7 separate regions of the Homo sapiens genome follow, and regions 1, 2, 3, 5, 6 and 7 are each reported to be linked to region 4. Evidence: microRNA targets listed by miRTarBase, many of them from high-throughput screens and not tested one by one. Region 4 holds a microRNA gene; each other region holds the end of a gene's coding sequence. Distances are from middle to middle.
Evidence for each region. The annotated mature microRNA hsa-miR-8064 reads AGCACACUGAGCGAGCGGAC and lies in region 4 at 2,096-2,115, shown strand. An mRNA with a match to its seed (bases 2 to 7 or 8) in the 3' UTR can be bound and repressed. Matches are read on the target gene's strand: a 7mer-m8 pairs with bases 2 to 8, a 7mer-A1 pairs with bases 2 to 7 and ends in A, and an 8mer does both.

Region 1: the mRNA of QTMAN is a reported target of hsa-miR-8064. Seed matches in the 3' UTR shown: 7mer-m8 at 3,514-3,520 and 7mer-A1 at 764-770.
Region 2: the mRNA of MDGA1 is a reported target of hsa-miR-8064. Seed matches in the 3' UTR shown: 8mer at 2,804-2,811, 7mer-A1 at 2,115-2,121 and 7mer-A1 at 2,095-2,101.
Region 3: miRTarBase lists WDFY3 as a target of hsa-miR-8064. Seed matches in the 3' UTR shown: 8mer at 863-870 and 8mer at 388-395.
Region 5: the mRNA of VANGL1 is a reported target of hsa-miR-8064. Seed matches in the 3' UTR shown: 7mer-A1 at 2,091-2,097.
Region 6: the mRNA of ZNF518B is a reported target of hsa-miR-8064. Seed matches in the 3' UTR shown: 7mer-A1 at 3,412-3,418.
Region 7: the mRNA of IL20RB is a reported target of hsa-miR-8064. Seed matches in the 3' UTR shown: 7mer-A1 at 1,342-1,348 and 7mer-A1 at 1,375-1,381.

Annotation. Positions count from the first base shown.
Region 1 is chr2:143,943,475-143,947,807 of GRCh38, forward strand. It overlaps QTMAN (queuosine-tRNA mannosyltransferase), which reads right to left. Exons shown (of 12, transcript NM_001376312.2): 12 at 1-3,661. The coding sequence ends at 3,578. The region is part of intron 2 of QTMAN-AS1 (QTMAN antisense RNA 1); the gene reads left to right. Among named protein-coding and RNA genes, the nearest start is that of QTMAN-AS1, 8.6 kb to the left of the region's middle.
Region 2 is chr6:37,633,868-37,638,200 of GRCh38, forward strand. It overlaps MDGA1 (MAM domain containing glycosylphosphatidylinositol anchor 1), which reads right to left. Exons shown (of 17, transcript NM_153487.4): 17 at 1-3,592. The coding sequence ends at 3,501. Among named protein-coding and RNA genes, the nearest start is that of MDGA1, 62 kb to the right of the region's middle.
Region 3 is chr4:84,669,307-84,673,306 of GRCh38, forward strand. WDFY3 (WD repeat and FYVE domain containing 3) reads right to left here. Exons shown (of 68, transcript NM_014991.6): 68 at 291-3,685. The coding sequence ends at 3,562. Among named protein-coding and RNA genes, the nearest start is that of CDS1, 88 kb to the left of the region's middle.
Region 4 is chr3:52,844,367-52,848,637 of GRCh38, reverse strand. MIR8064 (microRNA 8064) reads left to right here and starts at 2,086; the gene lies at 2,086-2,175. STIMATE-MUSTN1 (STIMATE-MUSTN1 readthrough) reads left to right here. Exons shown (of 10, transcript NM_001198974.3): 5 at 3,697-3,809. It overlaps STIMATE (STIM activating enhancer), which reads left to right. Exons shown (of 8, transcript NM_198563.5): 5 at 3,697-3,809. RefSeq lists an enhancer at 3,653-4,153.
Region 5 is chr1:115,690,836-115,695,168 of GRCh38, forward strand. VANGL1 (VANGL planar cell polarity protein 1) reads left to right here. Exons shown (of 8, transcript NM_138959.3): 8 at 284-4,333. The coding sequence ends at 544. Among named protein-coding and RNA genes, the nearest start is that of VANGL1, 51 kb to the left of the region's middle.
Region 6 is chr4:10,439,282-10,443,614 of GRCh38, forward strand. It overlaps ZNF518B (zinc finger protein 518B), which reads right to left. Exons shown (of 3, transcript NM_053042.3): 3 at 599-4,333. The coding sequence ends at 3,823. Among named protein-coding and RNA genes, the nearest start is that of ZNF518B, 16 kb to the right of the region's middle.
Region 7 is chr3:137,009,585-137,013,891 of GRCh38, forward strand. IL20RB (interleukin 20 receptor subunit beta) reads left to right here. Exons shown (of 7, transcript NM_144717.4): 7 at 529-1,501. The coding sequence ends at 639. Among named protein-coding and RNA genes, the nearest start is that of IL20RB-AS1, 30 kb to the left of the region's middle. RefSeq lists a cis regulatory region at 4,194-4,307.

The DNA.
Region 1 (4,333 bases), not on the chromosome of region 4:
TTGAAAACTGATTCTATCATCCACAGAAAGTATCTTGAGACTTCAGTAAAATTTCTTTTGTGGCTCATAATATTTCTGGGTAGCAGATGCTTTCTCAAAAACAGATTTTACTTTTAAAAATATCAAATATAATTAACACCTTCAACATAAAATGAAATCTTTGCTTCCAGATGCATTTCAAGGTGTTGAAATTAATCTCTGCAGCCCTCTATGGCTAAGAGTTTCCATTGACTTATGGATTCTGCCTGCCATATTGATGTCTGAAGGACTGAGAACAGGAGCAGGGCATTTAAACTTAACTGTATTTGAAGGATGCTTATTAAACCAGGAGCATTTTTAAAAAGGTATTTGCATCTATTTCTGTCAACACAGTATAAATGAGAAGGTTAAGAACCAGGTGCCCTGATATTTGTTATAGAAACACCTAGCCAGAAGCATAGATTAAGTTTAGGGCAAGCTGTATTTCAAGACACTGTGTCAAAGTCTTGATAATGGATGGACTTTTAAAGACATTTAAAATTAAAATTGACTTTATTTTAAAAGAAAAAAACAATCGAGTGTTAAAAAAAAAGAGGAAGACTAAGTTTTCCATCAAACATACTCAAAACAATAAATGATGGGGGTGGTTGATAAGGGAAACTGAATTAATGAGTCAACGTGTAGTACTAATTATCTGCTGAGATTTCAACAAAATACTGATTAACTTATTTAATAACACTCCATTCCACTAGGTCGTGGGTGTTGAGAAGCATGAATGTGCGTGTGCACACACACACACACACACACACTCCTACATATTTTTAAATGTTAAGAATTACACATTTACAAAACTTTTTATTGCTTATGTGAACTAGTAGCAACTCTGACATTACAGTCTTTATAAGGTTTTTCTTTAAACTCCAAATCTCGGTATCATGCAAATAAGTGACACCTTTAATGTAATTTTTTTAAAATTTATTTTAAATTTATTTATTTATTTATTTTTTGAGACAGAGTCTCGCTCTGTCGCCCAGGCTGGAGTGCAGTGGCACGATCTCGGCTCACTGCAAGCTCCGCCTCCTGGGTTCACGCCATTCTCCTGCCTCAGCCTCCCCAGTAGCTGGGACTACAGGCACCCGCCACCATGCCTGGCTAATTTTTTTTGTATTTTTAGTAGAGATGGGGTTTCACCGTGTTAGCCAGGATGGTCTCGATCTCCTGACCTCATGATCCACCCGTCTCGGCCTCCCAAAGTGCTGGGATTACAGGCGTGCGCCACCGCACCCGGCCTAATGTAAGCTTTTGTCCTGGAAGGAATGTTGGCCACAGCTAATGGCAAAATTTGATTTGCATTTATGAGTGTAGAAAAAAATGCCCACATACAGGTAACTTTCAATATTATATTTGCCTAAATCAGGAAAATACGTAAATGTTTCAGATGTACTCTCTGAAAGGTGTTTAATGCTTTTTTTTTTTTTTTCCTATCAGTGAGAAAAGATCTATGGGTACTAGTTGTGTGTGGAGTATCTTAGCCACTATGAAGCGTAAGCCCATTTAGTTTCAGGATAGAAAAACACAGTAAACGAAGCGCTATTTCTTGGCTGTGAGATAATATTATTTTGAGAAGATGTCATCTGTGACACAGCAACTGACAGAAGCAAACTGACTCATCTGGTTTATCTCAGTAGATGGCATAAAGTATAACCTTGCCCAGGAGAAGTGGCAAAGAATTTCTTATTCATATTTATATCTTTAGTTTTGCTATCCAAAGGAACACACCTGCTAGATTCTGAGTTCCATAGTCTTAGACTGGAAGGAACTTCCAAAATAGTTCCTGAGCTCTTTGTTTTCTGGGTGACGAGGTAATTTGTTCACTGGCTTCCCTGTAAAAGTCTAGAAGCCAGTGCTGTGGTGGCCCATCACACACTGTGGGTCTCATGAAGGTTGGAGAGAGGAGTCTGTTCAGATGGAGCTTCTTGTTTCTGCTTCTTACTCTTCCTGCTTTTAAATTCCCAGGCCTCATAGACTCTGAACTGCTTGCTTCGATCTGCAATACTGCCTCTCTTCCAAGGGCTTTGTCTGGCTCCCTAACCTTGATCTATTTCGTGCTTTCGATTTTGCTACCGGTCAAATGGGCCCTACTGGACTTCCGAATCATTGCTTTCTTTATCTTAGATGCCTGCTAGGCCACTCGATCCTTCCAGAAGCTAGAAAGCCTGGCTTGCCCCTTGTCTAGCCACCTTTCCCAGGCTGTGCCTCACTTTGTGGTGTATAGAAGTTACTCATTTCAAAAGCTAGGGAAAGTTACAATTTACCTGTCAGTAAACAGAAGATGGTTTATCAACAGACTTTACCTTAATGACTACAAATGTTTACCTCCTGCTTTCCAGAATGCAAAGAAAATCTTGGAAATGTCATAATATCTTACAAACATTTGCAAAACAGATCCTTGTTCATCCGGAAAAGAAACAATTGTATTTGTTGTCTCTGTCACAAGGAAAACGTTCAGTGAGAAACACATAGGTAGATGTATACATCTATATGTAAATGAATATGCTAATTAAAAATTGCAGTGGGTACTTTATTAAGAATTTATTTTACCATCTAGCCATTCAAAACATCTTTACATCAACAAACACAGCAGTTTGACTATTGAAATCATAAGCGATTTATCTTGAAAAGGTTATATTTGTAGGTGGATGCAAGTATATTGGAGAAATATTTCTATCAAAATCACTGGTTTTGTTAGGAGTATTTTGATTTTTCTATTTTTACGCTGGGAAAAAAATTAAAACAAGTATGTCAGTGTTCATTTTATGGGATAGTTGGCTTCACTGTGTTTGTCATGTTTGTCCGAATTACAGCTGTTTATCTTGCAACTTTAAGATTAATTAAATGCAAATGTAACTCTGTGAATCATGGGAATACCTGCCAGACCTCTTATTAATACCTTCACTTAAAACCCCCTGTGCCTGAGAGTCATTAATTTGCTAAAAGAAAAGTGCTAAAGCAGCCCTTTGCCCACAAACAATTCTGCGATGGCTGCCCAATTAATCCCAAAGCATTCTGATCCTCCTTTCAGGCCTCGTGGCCCTTTGAGGACACAAGAAGGCTCCGATGATAACCTGGCAACCTAGGTAGAAACCCAGCCAAGTGTGAGCGTTTGAAGCTGCAGTTTGGCTGCCATCGTGTCGGCGAAAAGAAAGAATTCAGGCACCATGTCATCCAGTACAAAGGATAAAAACGGATTCAACCGGAAATTCAATGTGGCACCACATATGGGATACATGAGTGCGGTTATACAACAGGCCACATATTTTTTTTGAACAGTCTCCTACATGTGATGCCGAGGACATGTGTAACCATCATAACGTCTCTAGGAATCTGTATTTAATTTGAGTTGGGGTGGTGGCAGGGATTGGAGATCTGAAGCCGCCACAGGTTTGTGGCAGATGGCTCTGTGTCAGCTATGACAAGCAGCCAGGCTCAGCTTCCTCTGCAGATTTTCTTTTCTCTCTGATCAGGTAAATATGGGCACACTCTGGAAAGTTCTTCAGATTCTGCCTTAGGCTGCAAGTTTGTGACTTAGCCCCATCTGTCACAAATCTTCCCTAGGTTCTGTTGTAAGCAGAGACCTGAATTTACCATGTAGGGCTGCCCAAGAAAACGGAGCGATTTCACCCTGCAACGAGGAGGAGGGAGAGAAGAGAAAGAAGTGAAGAGCATTAATGACTAAAAGATGAAAGTATGCTGAAAATTTATATTGCAAATTTGCATCACTTACGTCAATTACATTTCAAAAAGCCACCAAGTAAATGGTTCTTGAGTTTCATCACCTCAGGAAATCTCAGTTTCTGATTGGTCTAAAGTGTCGTTGTATTTCCAACCAGAGAAGAAGGCTACTGTTTTCTGCAAATGGGTATATTCTGCTGCACACATATTTCTTGGTTTATGTTATGAATGACAACCATTCATAGTTGGATGATGAAAGTTCATCATCCAACTTTTAACTTATATAAACACAAGACACGTAACACTGTACATACAAGTTTCTGCCGTGAATTTTACTTTTAAATGATGAAGACACAAAGATAAATGCCATTACTATTATGTGAAATTTAAAAAGTGCTTCATATTTATAACAGGTTTATATTCATTATTTCATTATACCAGTACTTCAGGGGTACATTGATATTTAAAAAAATATTCTTCCAGGTTTACAGATGAATCACATAGAGGCCAAGAAGATCACCTAGAATCAGGTTGCAAATGAGTAGCAGAGAAGGACAAAACCTCTAACTGATCTTAATCAGCCAAAGCATATCTGTGATGCTAAAAGGTTTTTTCCTTTTAT
Region 2 (4,333 bases), not on the chromosome of region 4:
TGTGTGACCTTGGGCCACTCCCCTTCCCCACTCTGGGCTTCAGCTTCTTCATCTGCACGAGGGGATCAAACTTTTGAGGTCCATCCTCACTCTGACAGCCTGAGCCAGGGGCTTTCCCAGAGCACAGGGAAAAGGAGAATGAATGAGAAAGAGGTGTCAGGCCCATCTCTGAGAGGTAGGGGTGGAAGGAGCATTCCAGGAGGAGGGGGCTTGGTCTTCAGGCTTCACTCAGCACCCTAGGAGCCTGTCTGTGCTCCCAAGGGCAGGATAGCCCAGCTGAGACTTCCATAAGCTGCTATACAGCACCTGGCCCCCGGAGTCCTTTTCACCAACCTGAAGGGGACAAGGGATGGAAGGGCCCCAGCACCCTGAGGGCTGACCCTGAACACCCCGTTTTAAGGCCACAAAATGCCTCAGTCACCCTGACCCAGAGGGCGAGGCTGCCACTGGGGAGATGTGCTGGATCCAGCCAGCCTGGTCTCCCCTGGCGGGGGTCACTCATGGGCCACCCATCAACACACAGACACTGACACACCATGGCGCACAAAGACACAGCATGAGCAACACTGATACAGAGATGCTGGCTCACAGGCACACACAGACACAGACACTGACAAGTCACCAGGTGATACACAAAGACACTCATTCCTGCTGAGGAACACACAAACACACAGAGACCAGCACATGCCTAGACATTTACAGTGCCCACTGGCATACACTGACACCCACATCCCCCACCCACCTGCTGGCACACACAGACATCCACATCAGCCTCACCCATTCACACGTGGGGACCTCAGCATTTCAGCAGACACATTTTGTCAATCCCAGGTCAAGCCATCCTCAAGGCAGGGCTGTCTGCACCCACTGAGACCTCCAGCAGCATCCCCCCATCCCCCCTCCACCTTGTGCCCTTCGTCCATAAAGACCAGGAACCTGGGGGCCACATGTATGCAGTTCAGCTCAGCCAACATGTACTGAGCACCTTTACTGTCCACTCTATGGATCCTGAGGGGAACAAGGGAGACAAGTCTCCCCTGTCGGAGCAGCCAGGGTTGCGGGGCAAATGGATTGGAAGGTCCTCTGAGGGAAGCAGGCACAGGGTGCCTTGGGAACCCCAAAGAGGGAGCACTTGGGGCTATTCATCTCTGGTGCTCCAATGCCTACCCCAGCGAGGGCACAGAGGAAGCACCCAGGTGGTGCCAGGCCAGTGGTTCCTGCTGTCAGGAGAACCCAAGGAGCTTTTCAACATTTCTTGATGTCCGACTGCGCTCCAGTCCAATTAACTCAGAACCTCTGAGGTGGGAACCAAGCAGCAATACTTTTTAAAGGACTCTGGTGGTTCTATTCTGCAGGCAAGGCCAGGAACCACTGATTACAGAATCCATTCCACCGGGCAATGGAGTGGTTTCCACACCAGGCTCACTTGTGCTGGGCACGAGCGGGAGGTGGCGAAGGTGGAGGGGGGACTTGGAAGGCTCAGAGGAGGAGCTCACAGTCTAGTTGGGGCAATGGACTCTGCACAGATGGGACAGTTAAGGAACAATACCCGACAGACGCGATGGAAGTGTATGCTGAGAACCTGGAGCGACTCATTTCAGACAGAGGCCTTGACTGGGTCAGGAAGGCAGCCGTGCTGATTGGGCATCAGAAGGCCCCGCTGCATCCTGGCCCGGCCACCCACCAGCTGTTGGTGATAATGATCACACAGGCCTGGCAGGGGGAGATGGGCAGCCTTTGCCTCGGTTCCCCGCCTGCCTCCTGGCACTGCAGTGCTGCCCGAGTTCCAGGCCTCTTCTCTGCAGCTGTCCCCACCAAATGCTCCAGAAGGAGCCCTGTGATGCTCCTCACCAAAGGTGCTTGCATTCAATAGGGTCATCTGTAAGCTCTCCGTCATCCATAGGGGATGAAAGGTGGAATTTCAGGCCATCGCAGGCAGCTTGAGACTACAGAACAGGGCTGGACAGAGTCTATTCAGCCAGCACCCTACAAGCGAACACATCACTCAGGAAGGTGGACACACACGCTGACGTACACGGACATTCATAGAAACGAATGGGTCTCAATCCAGTCTCACAGGCAGATATGTGAGATTGCACACACAGACCTGTGTTTGCACACACTCCTGCCCAACAATGTACCCACGGTGGTACCTAGACACAGACGGGCACAAACACATACACACATATGCACGCATGCCTAAAGAGTCATTCTAGAAGGGGCTGGGCCTTCTCTCTCCCATGGATGGCTAGGTGGGGGCTCAGGTGATGTCAAGGAGGAAAGATCTAGATCCCATCATGTCAATCTCAGGTGCCTAACCCAGGACCCAAGGACAGGGATCCCTTTCACAGCTCCCAGAGAGTGAGGGGACTGGCACCTGCTCCCTCCACCAATCCCAGCTCTATAAGCCCCTCCTCCTTCACTGCCCCTGGGTGGAGAAGGGAACTTTCAACTAGACAGTGCTTTTTGGCATTTTGCCCTGTACACACCCTCCTATCCAGGGCACCCTTTCATGCCAAGTAGATAAGAAATGAAGGCCCCTCTCCACTTCCAAATTCATTGTCTGATATGGGGGCACCAAATCACAGAAGCGGGACGTCTCTTCTGCCTTTCTCCAAGTCAAGCCTCACCCCAGAAAATGGGCTGGCCACCGCTCCCCCAGCTCCTCTGAGACCCAGCTGGGGGCTGAGGCTAGGAGAGAACCGTGTTCTCAGGAGTCCCACTGCTTGTAGGGTGGAGTGGGGAAGTTATCAGTCTTCAGACTGCCCAGGCCCAAGACCCTGTGCTGGGTCCCTTCAAAGGGTGCACACTGAGGAGGGAAATATGGTGTCCCAGAAATAGGTCAAGGAATCTGGGGTGACCTATGGTCTCCACCATCCAGTGCTCACTCTGGACAGAATCGTGTGCAGCAGGTGCCCTACCTTCCTTGTCTCCTGGACGTGGGACAGTCACAGAGCTCGCAAAGTCCCACCTGTTCGTCCTCTGATCCCTGCCTCTCCCATCTCAGGAGTCCCAGAGTCTGACCAAGGGAGGGGCTCCATGTCTGCCCCACTTCTGGCTCCCTTCTGGCAAAGCCACCAGGCTGGAGTTCGGCCTTGACTTAGGGGACAGGGTAAAGTCAGAAGCACACCACGAGTGCAGCAAGGACAAGGCCTATGTTGCGCCGAGGTCCCTGGGTTGGCGGATGCCATTCAGGCAAGTCCCCTGTCTTTGCAGTAAAGAAGGTGCTGGCAGGTCAGATAGAAACTTGTGCTTTAATATATCTCTGTGTGTGTGAGCATGAGTGTGTGCGTGTGTGCAAGTGGAACAGCTGTCTCCAGGGCCTCAGTGCCTGGCCTCTGTCCTTGTTCTCTGCTCATCCTTGCAGCCAATGCAGGCCCCCTCCCTGGCGGGCCGGCCCTGCCCCTGGGCACCCCAGCTGGCGGGGGTCAGTCTTTGGTACAATGTGGACACTTTGGTGTGCCGGGGGCAAGGTTGGGGGGGTGGCCACACAGCTCTCATCATCTCTGCAACGCCAAGAGGAAGATGGCCATGGGCCCCCACAGCTGTGGGCTGGACTGGCAGGGGGCTCCACTGCCCGGCATCACCACCACTGCAACAGGGGAGAAAGAGGAGACAGGCCAGGGCTCTGGTCAGCTCTGGCAGGGGCAGGAAGTGGCAGGCAGGTCGGCACTGTTACTCTGCCCACCTCTTTGGAGGGCCTGAGGGTGGGCACTGGCCTCAGTGCACACAGACAAACTCACCGCACAGACATGAGGTGGCGTGGGGTGGGGTGGGGGTTAGCTCAGCCTGCCAGGGTTCACATTCACTAAGACTTGGAACAATTTACTTGACCTCAGTGGGCCTCAGTTTCCTCATCTGTAAAATGGGTCCAATGGTGTGTACTACCCCAAAGGACTGTTGTGAGGATTAACTGTTGTGAGGTAAGTGAAACATGCATATACAAGTTTGTGTGCCTTGCCTGGTACAGAGTAATTGCTCAGTAAGTAGGAGCTGTTAGTATTGGAAACCTCTGGCCCTGGAAGGCACACGTTCACCTCTGGAGCCAGAGGTACGCACAGATGTATTCAGACACAGGCACAGGAGGCGCTCTGATACCGTGAACAGGTCAGTATGCTCATCACGAGGGTGGGGGCCAGGCTTCTCATTGTTTACACAAGTACACAGCCTGAGTGAGTGTGGGGCACACCTTCACACAGTCAGAGCCACATGATTCCCATCACTCAGACATTCTGAACCCCTATTCAGACCCAAACACCCTCCCTCAACAGACAGGAACCCCCGCCACGCACAGCTCCCTCCAGATTCAGCTCCCCCACCTCCTTCCCGTCTT
Region 3 (4,000 bases), not on the chromosome of region 4:
ACTCATTAGCCCTGGGAATCCAGCACAATTGAGAAGCTCAGACTGCAGAAAGCCTGATTTTTAAGGATGAGTCAAACTAGAACTGGAACTGGAACCTTAACAGCCAATACTTCTGCAATCTTATGCAGGTGCTTCTGAAAGTATTTACAACTAGAAAAGAACTACATAAAGTTAGGGAGTTATTAGATCTCTGTTTTTCCTTCCCTGAATAACTGACTTAACAACTTTTCTTTTTCTTTCTTTTGGTGGTAAATAGGTATTTATTTGAAATGAAAAAAAAATTACTTAAGTACCTGGACTATTGCATTTAATCATGTATTGTAATTGTGTTACTCTACCTTTTTGCATCAGAGACAAATATACAATGAACATTCAGATATCACAGACTGCACACTAGATAGTAATTCTTCAGGTCTTTTACATAACCACCAAGAAACAGATATTGGTTTCTGCAATATAGTATAAAAGTCCACAATCAATCCAGTCTTAGCCAGTATCTTCAATTTACTTCTGTTGCTGTACAAATAATTGGCCATTACTAGGGCTTACAAGTTAATAACAGGACAAAAAATATACATTGCACTGACACAAAAAGTCAGCTGTGTTAAGAGTCATGCAACAAGTAACCAAACTTGCTGAAATTAAAAATACTTTCTAAAAACAGTTTTAACGGCATAAATATTTTATACACAGTTCATTTACCAAAACAAAATGTATTTAAATGATACAAAGCAAAAATAAGTTTCTACCAACTTTATACATAAGAAAGTGCAAAATAACTTATCTAGAGTGTTTTGCTATTATCCAGACGGATGGCTGCTATGGGCAGCTATTCTCTTCTTCAAAAGCATGACATTAGAGTTGCACACTACATAGAAATGTTAGAATACATGGATGAACAAATGAACAGGTGGATGGATGAATGAACAAACTACAAAGATCAGGCAGGAGCCCTATGAGGTACTCTCAGAAAAAGAATGCAGACCATACTAAGGTAGATGTACATGTTGACAATAGATGTTGGTAAATAAATTTACATGGAACACAGAAAGATATCCAGAGAAATAATTAGTTTATGTATGTGAGTGTACTTGTATGTGTGAGTGATTCTGTTGATTTCTGCATTAGAGGCAAAAAGAAAAGAAACCCGATTGAACAAAACAGTTGCCCACAGCACCAGCTGCCAGAGGAAATACTACCATGAGGGTTTTGGTTTCCACCTTCTAGTTATGGAAGTTCTGTTAGAAAGTTAGTAATGGAAGTTGTGTCGGAAAGTTTAAAAGTGTTCATCCCATATAGTTTCCTATTACAAAGAGGAATAACCTTTAAGTAACTACACACACACATTCATATATTCAAGTCTTTAAAGAACACCTCTGCCACTGGGTATGGGGTAAACATGATTCATGGACAAAAGGAGGACGCTTCTTTTAAAAAGTGTAGAATAACACTGCTACAAATCATCTAGAGGGCCAGACAGGGGCAAGGCCCACAGTTACATAATAGCACAATTTCTGCAACTGTTGAACATCAGCATTATTTATTAGAATTGAAGATGGTGATGGGGGAGGGAGAGTGTGGGGGGAGTAAGACACAGAAAGGAAAACAGAACACAACTTTTCTTTAAATTAAAGTATTAATGCCGATAATCCTTTTATTAACAAGTATATTTGAACTTTTAGAAATGGAAGTGTTTTAATCAATTTTGATATGTAATCATAAATAGACTGTAGGCTCAAACCCAGGTAAATAAAGATTTAAATTTAGTAAGCGTAAGGCACTAAAGCAGCCTTTCTATTTTCTCTTGGAGACCTAGTTATCATATCAGGAAGAACAAATTTGTTCTTAAGCTGGTTTCAGCCCATCAGGTACAAGATCACCATTGTACCAAATGCCTATTTTTGAATGCATGTGCATATATGTGCATTTTAGTGCATAAGTGTGCCTCTCACCAGGGCCTAAAGATGGAAAATTGGAAAAGCCAAAGCCGCTGTCCTTTGCATGATGCCTCTGTGAGGGTGTGAAGGCCTTTCCTTTCGCACCTGTGAAGGTGTGAAGGCCTATCTTGGGCCATTAATGATTCTATATTTTTCAAATCACAGGGCTTTTAGAATTGTTCATAATGTTATCACTAAGTTTCTGAAAATGTTAAAATCTAGATTAATTGTTTCATTTTTAATATATATTATATATATATATATATGTACATAACACACATTTAAAAAAATCCCACCACCAAGCCTTTTCTCTGTAAACTAATCTCTTAGCCCCTTCCAGCTTTAATCCCCCTGGATTTGTGTGTTCTGTATCCAACTAGTAGAACAAATTAAATAACTAAATATTAAAATACTGTAATTATATTCATAGCAAAAACAAAAAAATAGACATTGATACAGTATAAATCTCACTGTTTTCAGGTAGATGACATTAAATGGTAAAGGTTAATTTTAAGCAGTTCTGACATGATTCAGTTTTACAACAAAGTTTATATGTTAATTCTGTACACTTCTTTCTTTCCTTTTTTTACCCCTTGTTTGAAAATAAGCTATAGTAGAACATTAGTGTCACCAAAGACACATACTTATTATGTTCTATGCAAGATAAGCTAATTTTGGGTTACATGCAAATATATTTCCATTAGTTGAGACAGGGCTGTTTCCTGCACTACACTGGTCATCTGACCACCTTTCTGCAATGCTAAGAAGGTATTCTTTGACCAAACAGCAGTCCACATACAAGTTTAAAAGGGGCCCTGTTTATGTAGGAACAACACTGAGGTGGTGCGTAGCCAGGTACAAGACGCCCAAATATTTCCAGTTTATCTTACGGCTGGACTCCTATTCTCCCACACTGTTTCCTAAAGAAGGTCCACATTATTTTGGTTACTAGCCTAGTTTAAGTGGAGATACTGTGGGCAACTTGAAAGAAATGACATCAGGCACACAGGCTGAGCTTGAAAGGAAAAAAAGACCACAGATAATGTCTTTGGGGATTTAAAAAAACATATTTATAATTAATTGGTAAGTGAGGGATGTCAGACAAACCATAAGTAGTTCATTGAGTTAGTGGTTTAGTTTGAAGTTTCATGTTACAGGCAGTTAAGTCCTTATTTAGAAAAAAGGCCTTTTATATCTATTTACAATATACATAGTTACTTGCAAAGAAGTCAGATTTACAACCATTTTCTAAAAGCCTTTTTTGTTGTTGGTTTTTCCAAATAAGGATGAGTAGCTCTATAAAAATGAGATGCAAGAAAAGAGAGTTAATAAGTGAGGATTTTTCTCTTGGAGACAGCTACTGTCATCAGGGAGAACTGGAGGTCGAAAGTGTTGCTCCTAGGAACCACCTCATATTCTTCTTGTGCTGTTCACCTGAATCGCGTCTGCCCCATTCCTGTACTCTACACCCGTTTTATTCAATGATCCCTTTGAATTTTAACACTTCAAACACGTGGTATGAAGAGATGTGTAAACGGAGACTGTTTTCAATGCCTTCCAAGCTGGGACAGGAGAATCGGGAAGGGGTCTACAGACCATGGTCTCCACTCAGCTTGTTGAATCTTCAACAATTTCGAGGCCCATCTTCTGAACCTCTCTCATGCTGTAAGTTATAATAACAGTTCTGACAAACACGCACCGGGGATGAGATTTTCAAGCGTTTGATTTCAGATTGAAAGCGACTGCACCTAAAGGAAAGGAAAAGTCAATTAATTATAGGTCTTCTCCATGCTTGATCATGGGCACCGGAAACATTAATAATCGAATGGAAAGCTTGCAGTAAAATGCCAAAGGCCATACTGGTTTGTGTTGTGTGGCTGAACAAGGACTAAAAGGAAAGCTGTATTATTTGTTTCAGTCTATGAAGAAAAGCAGTATTAAACCAGGGAAGCTATTTCTTTGACTGACAAGAATTAAAAAAACGAAAACAAAAAAACAGAGTTAAGATTTTCCTATACAATGAGGCCAAGGTGTCTGAACAGTGATGTAAGGCCATTCTACCT
Region 4 (4,271 bases):
CTGGGCCTGCTGCACCAGGATACCTAAACCCTCCCACCACCCCCACAAACAGTGCTCACAACTACTTTGCAGTTGAGATCCCTTCTAGAAGGTGTGGCTCCCAGCTCTACTATAGCTGACCAGTGCTAAGGTGAATCCACTGGTCACCACTAGTCTGTCAGGTGCCACTCAGTGACCTGGGAGTGAAGATCAGGTCTGGTTCGGATACATCAAGCATTAACGCTACCAGCTGTTCCCTCACATTTTGTCTTCATCCCCAAGGGTGGATGGAAAGGAAGAAGGCAGTGATATTGTTTCAGCCTCTTTCTCAATCTCTTGGCCTGCCTCAGCCCCTGCCCCTGGGTCATCCCACCACTGCCTTTGGGAGCCAGAGTCTTCAAGCCAGAATGTCTCCAAATAAAGCTGTGGGGACCATCCTGAGTCTTCCCCAGGCTGAGGAAGGATAGCTTGTCTGCTCAGTTACCTGTTGTTTTCTATTTCCATCAATTTCTGTTGTTTTCTATTGCTACTGTAACAGATTTCCACAAACTTCATGGCACAAATTGAAACAACACAAGTTGATTATCTTTTTTTGTTCAGAAGTCTGTCATGGGTCTCACTGGGCTAAAGTCCCAGTGTCAATGGGGCTGGCTTCTGGAGCCTCTGGGAAGATTGTTTTCTCGCCCTTTCCAGCCTCTAGAGTCTGCCTGTAAGCCTTGGCTCGCGGCCCCTCCTTCCGTCGTCCAAGCCAACAAGAGTCGCTGGGTTTATCCCACATCGAGTTGCCCTGACTTCCTGCAGCCTTCTACTTTAAAGTGTCCTTGTGATTACATTGGCCCCACCTGGACACTCAGAACACTCTCCCTGTCTTAAAGTCAGCTGACTAGCAGCCTTAATTCCATTTGCAGCCTCAATTCCCCTTTGCTATGTGATGCTACACACTCACAGGTTCCAGGGATTTGGATGTAGGCAACTGTGTGGGGCTGTTATTCCACCTCCCACACCTGTTATCCTGCCCATCCATTTGAGGAAGAGGTACCACAGCTCTCTTCTCATGTAAATGAAGAAGAGGGGCTTATTTTTCTAGGATGTGTCTTTTGTTCCTAGAAGAGAAGGCCAAGAGTTTGCTGATGAGAATGCGGGACTCAGGGAAATAAGCCACACAGCCCCGGCGGTTGAGACCAGATCCAGGTGACGCATGGTGTCTGCACTCTGATTACCAGGCCACTCTTTCCCATGTGGAAGCCCTGACATCTGGGTCACGGTGCTTCATGGGTCTTGCTGCCCATCCCTGGCCAAACTCTCCCTTTTGAAAGCCTCTCGCCACAGATGTGTTCCCTCCTTTTGGCCCCTATTGCTGTGACTTCTACTGAGGAAATAATTAAACCCAAACAAAACACCCACATGCCTGAGGTTGTTCATTGCAGTAAAAAGCAAGACACACAAGGTCCAGGTGCAGTGGCTCACACCTGTCATTCCCAGCACTTTGGGAGGCTTAAGCGGGGAGGATCGCTTGAGCCCAGGAGCTTAAGACCAGCCTTGGAAACAAAGCAAGATCCCGTCTCTACAAAAAAAAAAATTTTTTTTAATTAGCCAGGCACATGACATGCATTCTTAGTCCCAGGTACTTGGGAGGCTGAGGCAGGAGGATCACTCAAGCCTAGGAGTTTGAGGATACAATAAGCCGTGTTCATGCCCCTGCACTCTAGTCTGAATGACAGAGTGAGACCCCATCTCTAAGAAAACAATAACAGCAATGACAAAGCAGGACATGCAACACTGCCTGGCATGTCTGTCCTTTAAAGAGGAGACTGTGGGGGACATCTGAAAGACTCGCAAGTGAAACAGGAATCAGGAAACACAGCAGCCACGTGTGCTTCTCCCAACGGTGGCTGCGTGAGATCTGGGTTCCCAGAGGAAATGGTGTGCCAGACGGGGTCACAGGTGCTTTTTCTCTTTTCTCACGTTTCTGAACTTTCTTATTTTAGCATCTAAAGAGGCAGCTGTAGCTAAGTTGTGTAGCAGAAACCTAGAACACTGGGGCAATGTGAGGCGTATGGGAGGAAAAGCATTTTCCTCCTTGTCAGTCACTTAAAACTGAAGAGCAGATGGAGTGAGCACACTGAGCGAGCGGACATCCTTCCATAGTAAATAAGCGGTGCCGCGCGCTCCGCTGGCTCCCAAACACTCCAGTCCTCACAGAGAGATTTCCTAGTGGCGCTTTCTGTCCAACTGTCCTCAAACCTACTTAATTACTTAATGGTTTCTCACAAATAAGTTCATCTGTTGTTTTGAGAACTGTTCTCGATAAGGTTAGGTGACTTACCGAAAGGAAAAGGATTGCAAAACTCATTAACAACCTAGCAAGGAGGGATTATGCTTATGAAATGGGTTTTTTGGCTCAAATGTCTCCTATCCCTTAAGTGAAAGTAGAAAGGAAGACCTCAGAAGAGGCGACTGATGTGTTTCTGCCACACTTCTCCCAGGGTTTTCCAGAAAAGGGAATGGCCTGGTGTTTTGTCCATTGCAGCTGCATAAAGTCATTCCCTTGTGTACAGCTGACAGGCTTGGGCAGGGCATGGGCCTCCAGCATGGGTGCCCAAACAGGGATTGCTGCAGAAACAATAAAGCCAAGTGAGAAGCTGGAGATATCTCTTTGGACCAAATTATCTTCTCATAGCCTGGATTACGGCCTTTACCCCCCAGCCTCCCGCCCCCCCGCCACCCCCAAAATGCTACCCTGTACCCCCTCTTCTGGCCAGCTGTGGTAAGGCAGCTCTGGCAGAACTTCCAGGGTGAGCCCCAGGCAACCTTCCCACATCCCACTCTCCCCTGGGTCTCCCACTTTGGGGAGGCCTATGTGGCTCCCAGGAGCCACCCTAGGGTTCTTCATATCACAGGATCATTCCCTGGAGGGGCTGGTCTTCTCTCCGTTCAAAATGTCCTGGAGGCATTCCAAGGCCTGCACATCCTCCAGCTTGTACTACTAGGTCCCTCGGTTTCTCAAGCATGGTGACTGAAGGGGTCCCAGATGGACCTTTGTCACAGCCCTGGGCCCCGGCCCATCCCTCCCACCTCCTTGCCCCAAGGACTTCTCTCTTCACTTCCTTGTCCCTGGCCAAGGTGTTTGGGGTGACCCATGCTGGACAGGTAGAGTCCAAATTCCTCCAGAGTCACGTTTCTGCTCTCAAGAGGCTGAGGTATCAGGGATGGCCCGGGGAGTTGGGTAAGGGATGGGAGGTGGGGAGGTGGGAGACAAACAAAGCGACTGGGTCCTGCTTCATCATCCACAAACATCAGTCCACTCATGGACAGAGAAGGGAGGGGCAGCCCCGCTGTCACTGGAAAAATCAACAACGGATAAGAATAGCAGTCTTGCTTCATACAGCTTCTGCTGCCAGCCGGCAGAAAGAACAGCTTTTCTGAGCTCCAGCAATGAGCACTTCCTAACTTTAGTGCTTTTTAATCCTATCTTAGAATCTCTTAAAAGAAAGGCCATTTTAGTATCTTCAAATAAGGAATTCTCTGATTTTATTTAAAATACTGCATTTGTCTGTTAAGGATGAGGTAATCCTTTGGACTTTTGGGGGGGCTCATTAAGTACCTTTAGAGCTTTAGAGCCAGTGTTCTGGGGTGCGTGTGGGGGAGTGGGGTGGGGACATCATCTCACTCAGATGCCTGGGCCCCATGTGACTAAGCACCCGCCTGTCCCTGCAGGAGACCCTCTGCAGTGTGGAGCCTGGGTCGGGCAGTGCGCTCTTTACATCGTGATCATGATTTTTGAAAAGTCTGTCGTCTTCATCGTCCTCCTAATACTTCAGTGGAAAAAGGTTTGCTTCGTCCCTGCATGAGCAGCTCCTTGCCACGCTGAGCAAGCAGCACTTCCTCCCCATCACCCACATACGCCAACTCTAGGAAAACCAAACTTGTTTTAACTCTATGAATGTGTCCTGCATTTGGTCTGATGTGGCAACTACTCCAAAGAGCTTGTCAATTCTTAGCATCCATCCACTTTAAATGTCTGTTCTAGATGAAGCCTTGGGATGTATAAAACTAATGAAATACAGTCCCTGCCCTCGGCTTGCTACCATCTGATGGTGGTTTTTAGGCCTTGCGACAATACATGTTTCTACATCGGCAAACATCCTGTCACACACCTCTCTTGGCTGGTAGTTTAACTGAGCCATGTGGTGCCACGGGCAGCTTCCACAGTCTGTGACCTTCAGTGTGCCGATGCCCTGGCCAGCCCACGGGCTCCCCAACCGTGGCTTCCGCCCTCTGACCCCAGTTCT
Region 5 (4,333 bases), not on the chromosome of region 4:
GACACCAGCCACCCCATTTTCCCTCCCCTCTGTGGGTACCACTATTCTTGCGCTTGGTGGATAGTAGGTAAAGGGGAGTGAGGAAGTCCAAGAAGTCTTCCCTCCCCAGTAATGACTCAGTTGTGAGGGTCTGATGGGAATTGAGTGTGATGAGCTGGGCTCTGGTCTAAGCTGGTTTATTTGGAAAAAGTTCTTTATAGATGTGAGAGTGGATAGCCGCCTGGCAGTACTGCCCTTAAAACAGGCTGTTTCTTCCCTAATGGCCTTTCTCCTCTGCTTCCAGGCCTTCCTAGAACGGTACCTCAGTGCGGGCCCCACCCTGCAATATGACAAGGACCGCTGGCTCTCTACACAGTGGAGGCTTGTCAGTGATGAGGCTGTGACTAATGGATTACGGGATGGAATTGTGTTCGTCCTTAAGTGCTTGGACTTCAGCCTCGTAGTCAATGTGAAGAAAATTCCATTCATCATACTCTCTGAAGAGTTCATAGACCCCAAATCTCACAAATTTGTCCTTCGCTTACAGTCTGAGACATCCGTTTAAAAGTTCTATATTTGTGGCTTTATTAAAAAAAAAAGAAAAATATATAGAGAGATATATATCTATGCCAGAGGGGTGTCTTTTTTAAAAATTCTTCTTCATTGCTGACTGAAACTGGCAGATGATTGACCAGTATCCTTTGACCATCTGCACTTTATTTGGAAGGAAGCAGGGGCTGTCCACCCTGAAAAAGAGTGACTGATGACATCTGACTTTTGTCGATGGGACTTCTCAAGAAGCCATTCCTTGGAGCTTCTGTTACAGCTGTAAACCAAAGTGGAGCTGGTGCTTCTTGGGAGCCTCGCCTTACAACTAATTCCTGCCTTTCGTCCAGTACCAAGTCCCCCGTTGCTTCTGGTCAGCCCACTTGTAGACTTCCAGGGGACACATCTTTATTCTGTTTCAGGAAACCAGTCACGACACGTCCACATATGTATTTGTGTATGTTAATGTCCAGTATCACATCACCCATGAAAGTCGTGGGCAGTTCAGGAGATACCTGCCTTCATCTTTGTTCTTTGTTGCCTTAGGTTCTTCAGAGAAAGATCACAACAAAAAATGTACACTGTCGTTTACAGCTATTAAGTGATTTGATTTTGTTTTTTTCCCAAAGAGAAAACCTACCTGCCCTGTTTCTGATCCCACCCCTCTGCTGGCTTGAAGCAGGTAACCCTTTCCCAGCCCTGCAGCTGCCCACCTGGCCTCCATGCCATCCTGCCCCCACCTGGCTGGCAGCCCTGGCTCTCCATGTGTGCCCTCCGGCTCTGTGTGAAGCCTCAAGTCAGTCCCAGCATTGTTTCCATAGGGAAGTGTGGGGTGCCCAGCAGGTAAAGCACAGGGAGAGAGGGCAGTGGGAATGCCACCTTTAGGCTGCAGCAGGAGCCCCACACTGCCCAGTTTTCCTCCCCACTGTTCTACACCAACCAGGGGAGACTAACACTGTGACTCTGGGATTGGCAGGTGCAACTTGGAGCCACTTAATTTCCTGGGGACGTAAGTTCTTCCCAAGCTTAGAGCAAGCTGCCCTGCCAAAGGAGACCAAACCATGCCAACCACGCTGGCAACTGCTGCTGTCCAGTCCCTGTGTTTTCTGACCACCGTCACTGTGCAACTCATCGCCTCTGCCACTTAGGACCAGGAAAGAGGCTGGTTTTGCTCCCACTCTTAGTTGCTGATAAAGTGGGGAGAAGGAAAATGGACACTCTACAGAGTTTGGGGAAGGGAGAGTAGGGAGCCCATCTTGTCCAGAAAGATTCATCTGTGGTCTGTCTGTTAAACACAGCTGATTTCAGTGGGCTTTCCCCTGGCCCTGGGGGAGCAGACACTGACTGGGTTGTGGGCAGAGGAGCCATCCTGGCGGAGCCCTGCTGCAGGGGAGCTCCTTCAGGAGCCCCATCCGGACCTCTTGCACTGGGCTGCCTTTGCCTCCATTTGCCTTCCTGTATCTGCAACAAACCTTTTAAAAGTGTTCACTCTTGCTTTTTCCAGTATTTCGGTAATCAGCCATCTTGCTGTAGTACAGGATGACATTGTCGAATGCTCTTTGTATGTGTGCACACCCCCTTACTCCCTTACTGCTTCATACACTCCACAAGTGGTACAGTATTTTGTGTCATTGTAAAAATCAAAATTGGCTTTGGATCTTTGTAATACACCTGTACCTGAAAAAGTAAACAACATTCTTCAATTACTAGCCTTCAGCTTGAAAAGACATGCTGGAGAAGAAGGAAGGGGGAACCCATAGGTGTGGCGTGGAGCCAAGATGTACTATTCAACTATGTGTTTCTGTTTATAAAAAACACATACCATGGAACCATGGTGCTTTTGTTCTTAGTTTTTGCCGTTAGATCCCTTCAAACTGGAAGTTCCTTACAATATCTTTCTCAGGAAATATTTTGGGAAATGGGGTAAGAGATGGCAAGTGTGAGACGGGCTGTGTCAGAGGTTGCTACGTCATGGATACAGTGCAGTTCCAAGTGCCATAAGTGTATGTACATATAGTTAATAATGACACTGTTCATCACCATTCTAAAATACTGTTCTTCCAACCCTATCTTCAATGACCAGTCCAGAAGGGGTTAAGCTGGATTCATTTGCTCTGGCATGTGCATTCCCAGCAGGGTGAAGAAAGGTTTAAATTAAAGAATTTATTTTCTCTCTCCCCCTTCCTCTTTCTCCCAGTCTTTGCATAGGAGAATGTTAGACATTCAGAAATTACTGTTTCTGTTTTAAATTGAGTATTGATTTTTTTATATTGACTTTGTATTGAGTTCTTTTTGAAAGAATAACAAAATAAAATGCAGGATCTTTGTAAAGCCTTTGCACTTTCAACCTCTTTATAGCTTGAGTTACTTTTGCAGTGGGAACAATGTAAATGACATTTAAAAGATTTAAGGTTTCAGAAAGCTGCATCCCACAATTGAACACAATGCATTTTTATTTCAATTCTTGGAACTGGTAGGCTATTCTTTTTAAAAGGGGGTAAACTTCGCCCTAAGGCTGGTAGAATGTATGTTCACATTATAGTAGACAGGATTTCATTTGCCTTATATGTTTATAGATTTTTTATAATTTTCATCCTACGTTATTAAAATTAGAGCATTGAGTGTTAAAGAACTTAATGAGGAGTCTATATCTGAGATTGCTCTCTTCCCTGGTGATGTTTTAACTGGTAGATAATTTGTTCTTAAATATGTACTTTTGAAGATAGGACAGTTTTTATAGTCCATGAACTGAATGTTAAAAAGTTCTGTATGCATTCTCAGAGAGGATTTTAAAGCTATATAGTTCATCCATCCTTTGCATTATCAAAATGTTAAGTCAAATCTGTAATACTTTGGCTAAAATTCATAAAGTAAGCCCTAGAGAAAATACTTGACCACCAAATTTTTGCCCAACTATCATCACCTCCCTTCCCCCGCCTCTGTTCTTGCCTTTTGACATCTACATGGAAGACAAGTTCTTTACAGCAAATGGTAAGAGGCAGGTGACCTGGTGTGTTTGCTGTGTTGTAGTTCATTGCCTGGGGCTTGGGACTCCTTTTTTAATGGAGAGACTAGCTGTGCAGGTGTGTGTTGGATAGGGATAAAGTGCTCACCCCTGCCCTCTCTACAGTAGTTGGTGGTAGATTTCTCTCTCATTTTGCCTCATAATCACTTTCGAGTGCATGTATTTACCTAAGGGCTGTAGCTCTGTGGGATGCTACCAGCATATTGGACTGACAGAAATTGATTACCTTGCCACTCCAACCTACGTACTGAGTGAGTGCTCCAGCCACTCAGTGAAACCAACAAAAGTGAGTCCTTGGTTTACCTTCCAATCTGGGTCCTGCTGTGTAAGTATCCCTAAGTGGGGATGCATATTTGTTTGTGCGTTTTTATTTCCATATATGTGAGCATTTCTCTGAGTGTATTACCAGACGGATAGCACATTTATATGTCAGACATCTTAACATCTGTGTTATCTGTAGCAGGTGTGTAGCTCAGCAGATACGTGTCATTGTGTATATAGCTGAGTGTGTGAGGGTGTCTGTGTTTCTGCAGTCCCCTGTGTTTGAGAGATGACTTAATAACCCTGTGTTTTGAGAGGTCGCTCTAAACCAGTGACTTTTCCCTCCCCTGCTTTATTCCTTTCCCTCACTGACACTGGCTTCTCCCGCTAGAGTAAATGGCTTTAGCACAGCACTGTCTTCTGGGGAGCCTGCTGTCCTGCAGGCAAGTCCATTAAACTCTTTCTTGCTTTAGGACTCTGAAAACAGCAAGAAACAAACAAACAAAGGTCAAGCTCTAAGAA
Region 6 (4,333 bases), not on the chromosome of region 4:
ACTCATTTTTTAACTCAAAATAAACTGAACAAATTGGTGAACTTAAGCAACTCACCTCCCTTTTCCTCAGATCTGCCAGTATTTGTCACAAGTCCAATTCTCTTCCTTTCCCTTATGACTCCTTGGGCCCTGGGAGTGAGATGAGGAAATTAAGTGCCTCTTTAAATATCCTCATACTCTTGCAACCCAAATATATGTGGACTCGGGTGCAAGAGATCATTTGGAGAGATGACATCAATAGTGCAAGTACACGTGGTCCAGGGGCTCATCACTGACTGGGAACTCTTCTACCCAAGACATGGAAGGCAGGTTAAAGGCCCACATACATTCTCTGCTGAGGCCCCTAACCATGGCAGGAAAATTGCCACTGCTGTCCAAACCAGCACCTCTTGTGAATCTGCAAGCAAAACAAAACAAAAACATAACCTGGCCTCATATTAGGGTCTGCAAGGTTAACCATCCCATCATTGCATCTAATTCAAAACATACCCTGGTAGAATTCAAAACACCTGTTACGTAGAATGACGCCTTGCCTTTGACTCAGAAATGTATAATACAAATAGGCTATGTAATAAAGTCACCTGCATAACGTTTGAAATCAAAGGGCAAAGAAAATTTTTGTTGCTTTATTTAACAAAATTTATGCCAACTCCTGTATCTATATACAAACATGTTTCAAAACCAGAGCAGCAGACACACAAACTGTTAACACAGGAATTACAATAATGCTTAAAACATGTTACACAATGTTTTGTTTCTGCTCATATAGACATTTACAGATTTAAAAATTATTCCAAAGGCCGAGCAACATCACATCTTCAACTTCTGAGATGGATTATATATAACATGTCCTAAAGAAAAAGGGATGGAGCTTGTGAGAAAATATATTTTGTTCAGTCTAGTTCAACAGACAGCAGGTGGCCCTTAATGAAGGCTTACAAGATGTTCTCGACTGGGGATACAAAATTGAATATAATATAGTCTATCAGAGTATACTTTGGGTCAGGTTTTTTTTTTTTAACTTTTACTGTATTTGCCTATATCCTAAATATAACAATCTCTCACTTCTGGTCCACCAAAGTAAGAAAACCTACTTTAAAAAATAAGTTGAAAATGATTTTATTGGCAGTATTAACAAAATGTAGTGATTGGAGGTCCTTCAAAATTAAGAACCCACACAAATACTCAACACAGGTCTGCCCCTACTCCCTTGTATTGTTAGAAATGTGTTTATTTCATAACATGTACCTACAGGTTAAGCTATCTTCTAAAGCTCTTTAGGGAGGACAGCTACTTTTTGCTTTCCCATTTTTGACTTCCAGAAACACTTTTAATTCCTTAAAAAGTATTCTAGTTCTGAAAATCCTAAAAAGCTTTGCTACATATTCTACTCACACAATTAAGCTCCATCAAAGTATGCAAGTTGTGTTTTTACTTATGCTTGAAAGTTGATGCTGCGAAGTGAAAATACTTCATGTTGACAGTTAACACTCTGACCTGATTCAAGGCCAATTCTCAGTCCAGCTTTTCAGGAAAAAGCACTATGTGGTGAGGAATAGGAGATAAAAAAGTGGCAAACAAAACAAAACAAAAAAAAACCACAGCCTTTTCTTCACTCCTCTCCTCTCTATATCTTGGGAGCTATTTTTCATGCCACAGGAGTACAATATATAACATGGATAAAACTTCGAATGCTCTACGTAGTGAAGTGGTACCAAAGATCTACTTCCTAAAAAGCACCAAATAAAAATGCAGTAATAAAATGATCCAAAGGGGTTTCTACTCACTTGTTCACATAAACCAGACCCCATCATTCCTGTGCTTTCATTTTCCAAAAGTGAGATTAGACCCTTATAAAAATGTACTTCCAAAATAAATTTCTAGAATATAAAAACGTTCTACATTTTTCCAGCCCATGTATCATTATAAAATAGGAAATCAGAAAATTAGCTACTGCAATTTTCATATGGTAAAAAATATTTTTATGTGTACACATACACATATATAAAAATGCAAGTTTTAAATTTCAATAAAAATTTACCAATTAACTTGATGATCATGTATTGAATTATACAAAAGAAATGTTGATTATCTGTAATGAGAACAAACTGCAAAGGATTGCAATTCCATCTACTGGAATCTAAGACTTTCCCATGTGAAAAAAAAAAAAAAAAATCAAAGTCTCCAATCGACTACCCAATAAACAATCACTGGTGTCTTTTTCAGGTGCAACAACTCTTTAGTTTCATTCACTGCACCCCACAAATCGCCTAAGACAGGAATAGCCCCTGGAGGGAGGGAAATGCAAGTTGGGGCTGCCTCGGGGTTGTGCCATCTGTGCTCTACCTGGAAGGTCAGCGCCCAGCTGCACAGGCAAGTGAAGACTAGAATCCTGTCTTAAGCACTGACCCAGCCACCTATCTGCCCAAGAGGCTGTGCTTGTGCAGGGGGTGGGCCTTTTTCTAAAGAACACAAATGTGTAGATAAATGACAGTCCTGACATCTGTTGGTAGAGAGGGGAGTGGAAGGAGTGTTCCTGGAGTTGCTTCCCTGAGAAAGCTGAGCAGCAGGGTAAGCATGAATGTGGTTAAGACAAATTAGAAACAGCGTTACTATCAATGAAAACTAGGGATCGTGTTCCTGTAACTTTAGCAAAAACAGTGGGAGGTCTCCATTTTGTTGATTCCTGCCATTTTCTAGTAATCGCATGAGGGAAAACCTTAAGGGGTCTCAAAGGCACAGAAAGGAAGAAACAGTGGGCAAGGAAGTTGTGCTAGTCCACAGGAGGGCCGGTTCAGAAGAAATGGCAAAGGGAGTCTAGTGTCCATGAATCAAAGGGATCAAGAAGAGAGAAGACAGCATCCACCCATGGTCTTTGGATGAATCCCAAATGAAAACTAAAGGGCATATGAAACCCTTTTCACAACTTTATGAGCCTACCTTGAACTGTGTTTGCGAGTTTTACCTATGTTGTAAGCCTGTTCCCTAGCATTTTAAATTGGTCACTTATGTTTCTGGGAGTGGTAAGGGCAAAGAGAAAATAGTTTTAGATATTTTCCTTTTGTAATCTCTTTTTGTCTTTGCAAAAAGGTACGTTCCCTTCCCATATGTCATAAACCAATGTATTTTAAAGAAAGCAAAAGCTAAGTATTTGAAAATGTTATCTTTCTTCTAACACTTGCTGTGAAAGGAGTAAATTCAGGCAAGCAGTTGAAAACATTCTTTAAAATGGCCAGTAAAAGCAAAACTCTTTGTGCTATACGGAACACTCGGGAGTATTACAAAACCAGGGAGGGAGTAAAAGAATGGCCATTTCTCTATAACCAAATTGAAGACAGTAAAGTAGAAAATATAATTTCCATTGTGCACCAAATACTCAGAACACAAATTAAAGCAAAAACAAAATGGATGTGCACACCAAAACAAAGGTTTTTCTGTAGCATTTATATGAAGAGCATGTGTAAAACATTCTCAATCTGCCCCTCTGAATGGATTATGAAAGATCAGTATGTACTCAGAAAACGGGGTGCTAAACAAAGAAAAGTCTCAGATCCCACTGAAAATCTGTTCAGTTTCACAGGCTCTCTCCAGAAAAATGCATATGTACCAATTTGCATGTACAATTTCAGAGCCTTCAAATACATTCTGGGGTCCAATCACATACTTCAGGTTCAGACTCCTAGCTCCCAATATTCCTACAGTTCTGAAGAATTAGCAGTCCTCTCATTTCTACAGTCTGTATTTCTTCTACTGAATCTTGGTGGAGGGACTCCAAACCAGAATAAACTAAAAGATAACTTGCTTTAAAGAGTAACTGTTTACTTATTTGCCCTTGGAGGAAAGAACATCCCAATCTCTAGTTGCTTCTATCAAATGCCGTTGGCCATGACTCATCCACTCTTCCTGGTCTTCATACAGTCGCCCACAAAACCAGCACTTAAATACACACTGTGAAGAATCATCAGGCAAGGAATCCACTACCTGGTAGTTGTTTTTATGAACTTTTTTGAGTTTCATTTTCAACATCATTTGCCTTTTAATTTGACTGGCTTCTTCCGCATTCTGGTAGGTCAGGCGTACATGATGCCGTCTGATGCCTAGCTGACACCTAGTCCTCTCTGATAAAACAACTTTGAGGACATTGCCTTTGTATTTATTTATTACCTTCATCACATTGGTCACTTCTGGCGAGTCCACATCAGGGTGGTTTAACACAATGACTGGCTGGTTCCGACGGGGACACTTAATCAACTGATCTGGCTTAGCTGCTATCAGTCTTAGTTGCCTTGCAACCTGAAAAATTGAAGGATCCTTGAGACAGCGGCTAGGTTCA
Region 7 (4,307 bases), 84 Mb from region 4:
CTGGAGTGCAGTGGTGTGATCAGAGCTTAACTGCAGCCTTGACCTCCCAGGCTCAATTGATCCTCCTGCCTCAGCCTCACGAGTAGCTGGGACCACAGACATGTGCCACCATGCCTGGCTAGTTTATTTTTTGTGGAGAGGGAGCCTTGCTATGTTGCCCAGGCTGGTCTCTAAGTCCTGGGCTCAAGCGATCTGCCTGTTTCAGCCTCCCAAGGCAGGTGTGAGCCATTGCACCTGCCTTTAATTTTTTTTTTAAGAACCAGAATTACATTCTGGGTTTTTGTGGGGCAGGGTCTTAGAATGAGGAACTCTGACCAAGCAGGGCTTCAAGGGAACTGTAGGGTAGTGAACTGGGAGATATTCTTAGCAAATGTTGGAAGCCCCTGATCTAGGGCTTGAAATTGTTTTTTGGTTTTTGTTTTTGCTGCTTGGAAATTAATTAATCAAATAGTTAAAAATGTAATAATATTCTTTAGTATTACTACTACTGCTATCCTCTAATGAATATTAATGAAAATTATTTTTCAGAAAATAACCAATTCACCCCAGAAGTTAATCAGCTGCAGAAGGGAGGAGGTGGATGCCTGTGCCACGGCTGTGATGTCTCCTGAGGAACTCCTCAGGGCCTGGATCTCATAGGTTTGCGGAAGGGCCCAGGTGAAGCCGAGAACCTGGTCTGCATGACATGGAAACCATGAGGGGACAAGTTGTGTTTCTGTTTTCCGCCACGGACAAGGGATGAGAGAAGTAGGAAGAGCCTGTTGTCTACAAGTCTAGAAGCAACCATCAGAGGCAGGGTGGTTTGTCTAACAGAACACTGACTGAGGCTTAGGGGATGTGACCTCTAGACTGGGGGCTGCCACTTGCTGGCTGAGCAACCCTGGGAAAAGTGACTTCATCCCTTCGGTCCTAAGTTTTCTCATCTGTAATGGGGGAATTACCTACACACCTGCTAAACACACACACACAGAGTCTCTCTCTATATATACACACGTACACATAAATACACCCAGCACTTGCAAGGCTAGAGGGAAACTGGTGACACTCTACAGTCTGACTGATTCAGTGTTTCTGGAGAGCAGGACATAAATGTATGATGAGAATGATCAAGGACTCTACACACTGGGTGGCTTGGAGAGCCCACTTTCCCAGAATAATCCTTGAGAGAAAAGGAATCATGGGAGCAATGGTGTTGAGTTCACTTCAAGCCCAATGCCGGTGCAGAGGGGAATGGCTTAGCGAGCTCTACAGTAGGTGACCTGGAGGAAGGTCACAGCCACACTGAAAATGGGATGTGCATGAACACGGAGGATCCATGAACTACTGTAAAGTGTTGACAGTGTGTGCACACTGCAGACAGCAGGTGAAATGTATGTGTGCAATGCGACGAGAATGCAGAAGTCAGTAACATGTGCATGTTTGTTGTGCTCCTTTTTTCTGTTGGTAAAGTACAGAATTCAGCAAATAAAAAGGGCCACCCTGGCCAAAAGCGGTCTTTAAAGTTCTAGTTACATTTTCAACCTCAAGTCCAGAGAGGCTCCAAAGGATACCTTTGGTCAAGAGGACTCGGGGTGGGGGTGGGGGTGGGGATGGGAGCAGCGGAGGAGCAGCCCCAGAAGTCCAGAGCCCAGGGCTGCCTGGTTGGGGGCAGCCTCTGGCTGCATGAGAACCCCAACTGAGGCAGCTGGCATAAGCTTCGCCTGGTTAGGTGCTCCTAAGCCTTTCCTGTTGGCCCCACCCCACAGGAAATCCCTGGGGAACCCTCTTTTCCTTGACAGCTTACTCAGGGTATCCCCAGCCCCTCTTAGTCTGCTCATTTAGGACCTACCTCTGGAAGCTTCTACCCACCCCTTTGCCCCACCAGGTGAAGAAAAGAGCCAACCACAGAGAAGGAATGATGGGAGGAAACTTCTTGAGGGGTGAAGGGATTGATGGGCAGGGCCTGCGCCTTGCTTTCTAACCCCCTCGAAGCTCTGGAGCCTCCAAGTTGGTTTATCTTCACCCTCACTTCCTGGGCCCTTTCCAGCCAGCCCAGTGGTGGGACAGTCTAACTGCATCAACTGGGTGTTTCCCCAGAGGCCCACAGCCCTTCACCACCTGGAGGGGTCTCTCCAGGAGCATGAGATCGCTCAAGACCCGTTCCTTCTTTTCCTTTGTGTTATTTTGTATGCTTCTCTGTGTTGTTCGTTAGAGGGTGTGTGCTAATTTTATATTTGACCTAAACTAGAAACACACTTTCAGTTTGCAAAAACAAAGACCATATTACTATTCCAGTCATCACCCTCCCTCCTCTCTCTTCCTGCCCCCTTATGGTGGGGTGGTGGGGGGCACTATCCTTCTGTCACAGCCCAGGCGCAGAACTGAGAAAGGACCCTGACCTCCATCTGCTTGAGTCTCTCACAACTATTCCCAGTGCCCATCCATTTTTTGGCATCTATAGGTACACAGAGATTTCTCTTGATTCTTCTGTTGTCTCCCCTTGCCCTGAATGTGCATTTATGGAGCCCCAGCCATGCACCCGACCTGCCAGCCCCCATTGGTGGAGGGGCTGCCTCCTCTACAGCTGGCTGTTCCCTCTCCCCTGGAGCACTTCTATCCCAAGTCCCCAGGCCTCCTCCCTGCCCCTCCAATGCATTTATCCCTACATCTGGACACTTACATGAGTGAAAAGGAATGTGATTAGTAATTACGGCAGGACCACAGCTGTAAATCGGGACTCCTCTGGGCAAACCAGGAGCCAGGTCACTCTCATCATAAGGCACAGCTTCCTGCCACATTCTTTTTCTAGAAGCTCCAACCCTCCAGATGCCCAGTCACTGAGTCCAGGGGCTCAGGCTCAGCACTACTGGCTTGCTTTGTTTTCACAGTTTCTCATTGAGTCCTGTGGGAATTGGGGGAAGTACTTGTGTGTGTGTGTTGTGGGGGGATAAGTATTTGGGAGCAGCCTAGAGTGGCTTCTGCTGTTTCACTGAAGACTGTCTCTTGCAGGCCAACCCAGTAGAGTCCCCTGAGCCCCCAGAATCAAGCCCAGCTTTCTTAGTCCTGCCTTTAGGGTGCAACTGCCAGGGTCCAGTGAATAAAATCCCTGCTCCATGAGGCTTACATTCCAATGGGGTAAGGGAGAAATAATAACACAATAACAGTATTATTATTCAGTGAATTATTTAGTATATTGGGAGTTTGTAAGTCACGGTAAAATGAAAAAGTAGAGCAGAAAACGGGGGCTGGGGGCAGGTTGCAGCCTCTTCAAAATGAAAGTGGATGGAAACAATGGACCCAGAACTACCTGTCAGATAAGTCCCTGCATAGCCACATGGTGTGAGATATTATGAGAGATTCTAGAACAAAGTAATTTGGCAACAAATCCGTAGGTGTATGTAGTCTAAAACAAAAACTTTATTGAGTATTTATCCCTTTGTATTGATAGTGTATTTTTGCAACTATTATCTTATCAGATAAAGCAAGTAAATAATATATATTTTGTATATTTTGATAAGAATCTAGATTTTAGGATTAGTGACAAGGAAGGCTAATTTTAGGATCCCAAATTTGACTAAGAACAGGGCACTGTTGGAACTGAATCAAACATATTAATATGAAGTCATGTCTTTATGAAACATGACATTAAAAATATTTTGACTTTTTTCCACTGAAATGGCCCAGGAGAAATGTCACCTCCACAATGCATCTTAATGCTAAGATTTTGGTTTCTAGTGTTAGTTTTCTCCCAAAGGAGCCAAAGTTTCTTGGAGCAGTAATGGATGCCATGTCAGTTTGGAGTTGAAAGGTACAAGGTAATCTTAAAACACCTATACCTTTTTGAGACAGAAAGCAAAGCATTAAATAAGGGTCATTCAAAATTACACAAGGAACAATCTATACAGGGCTCCTCCTGGCCAAAGTTGGGACAATATAAGCACCAGAAGGAGAATATTGGCTGGCACAATTGATACCATATATTTGAAAAGTCATCAGTCCATGACACCCAAGAAGAGCGAAGCTACCATAATGCATTCTCAGAGAAGATGAATCTAATAGAATGCATTTCTACTTGTTATTCAATCGTGTTGGGCTTATCGACTCGTTTATCGTGTCAATGAGGAATACCAGTAAATGTAAATCCATCAGTCAGAAGGCATTTTTTCTCCTCTAAAGGCTCCTCTCCGCCCCTTAACGTCCAGTCTTTCCCCACTTGGCTCTCCCTGTCCTGTCAAGGGGTTCGGTGGAAAAGTCTTTTAAGTTCCCTTCACAGAAGAATTGTAGACTCTGCCGGTCTAGTCTCTGGGCCAACCCTCCCCGTCTCTTTA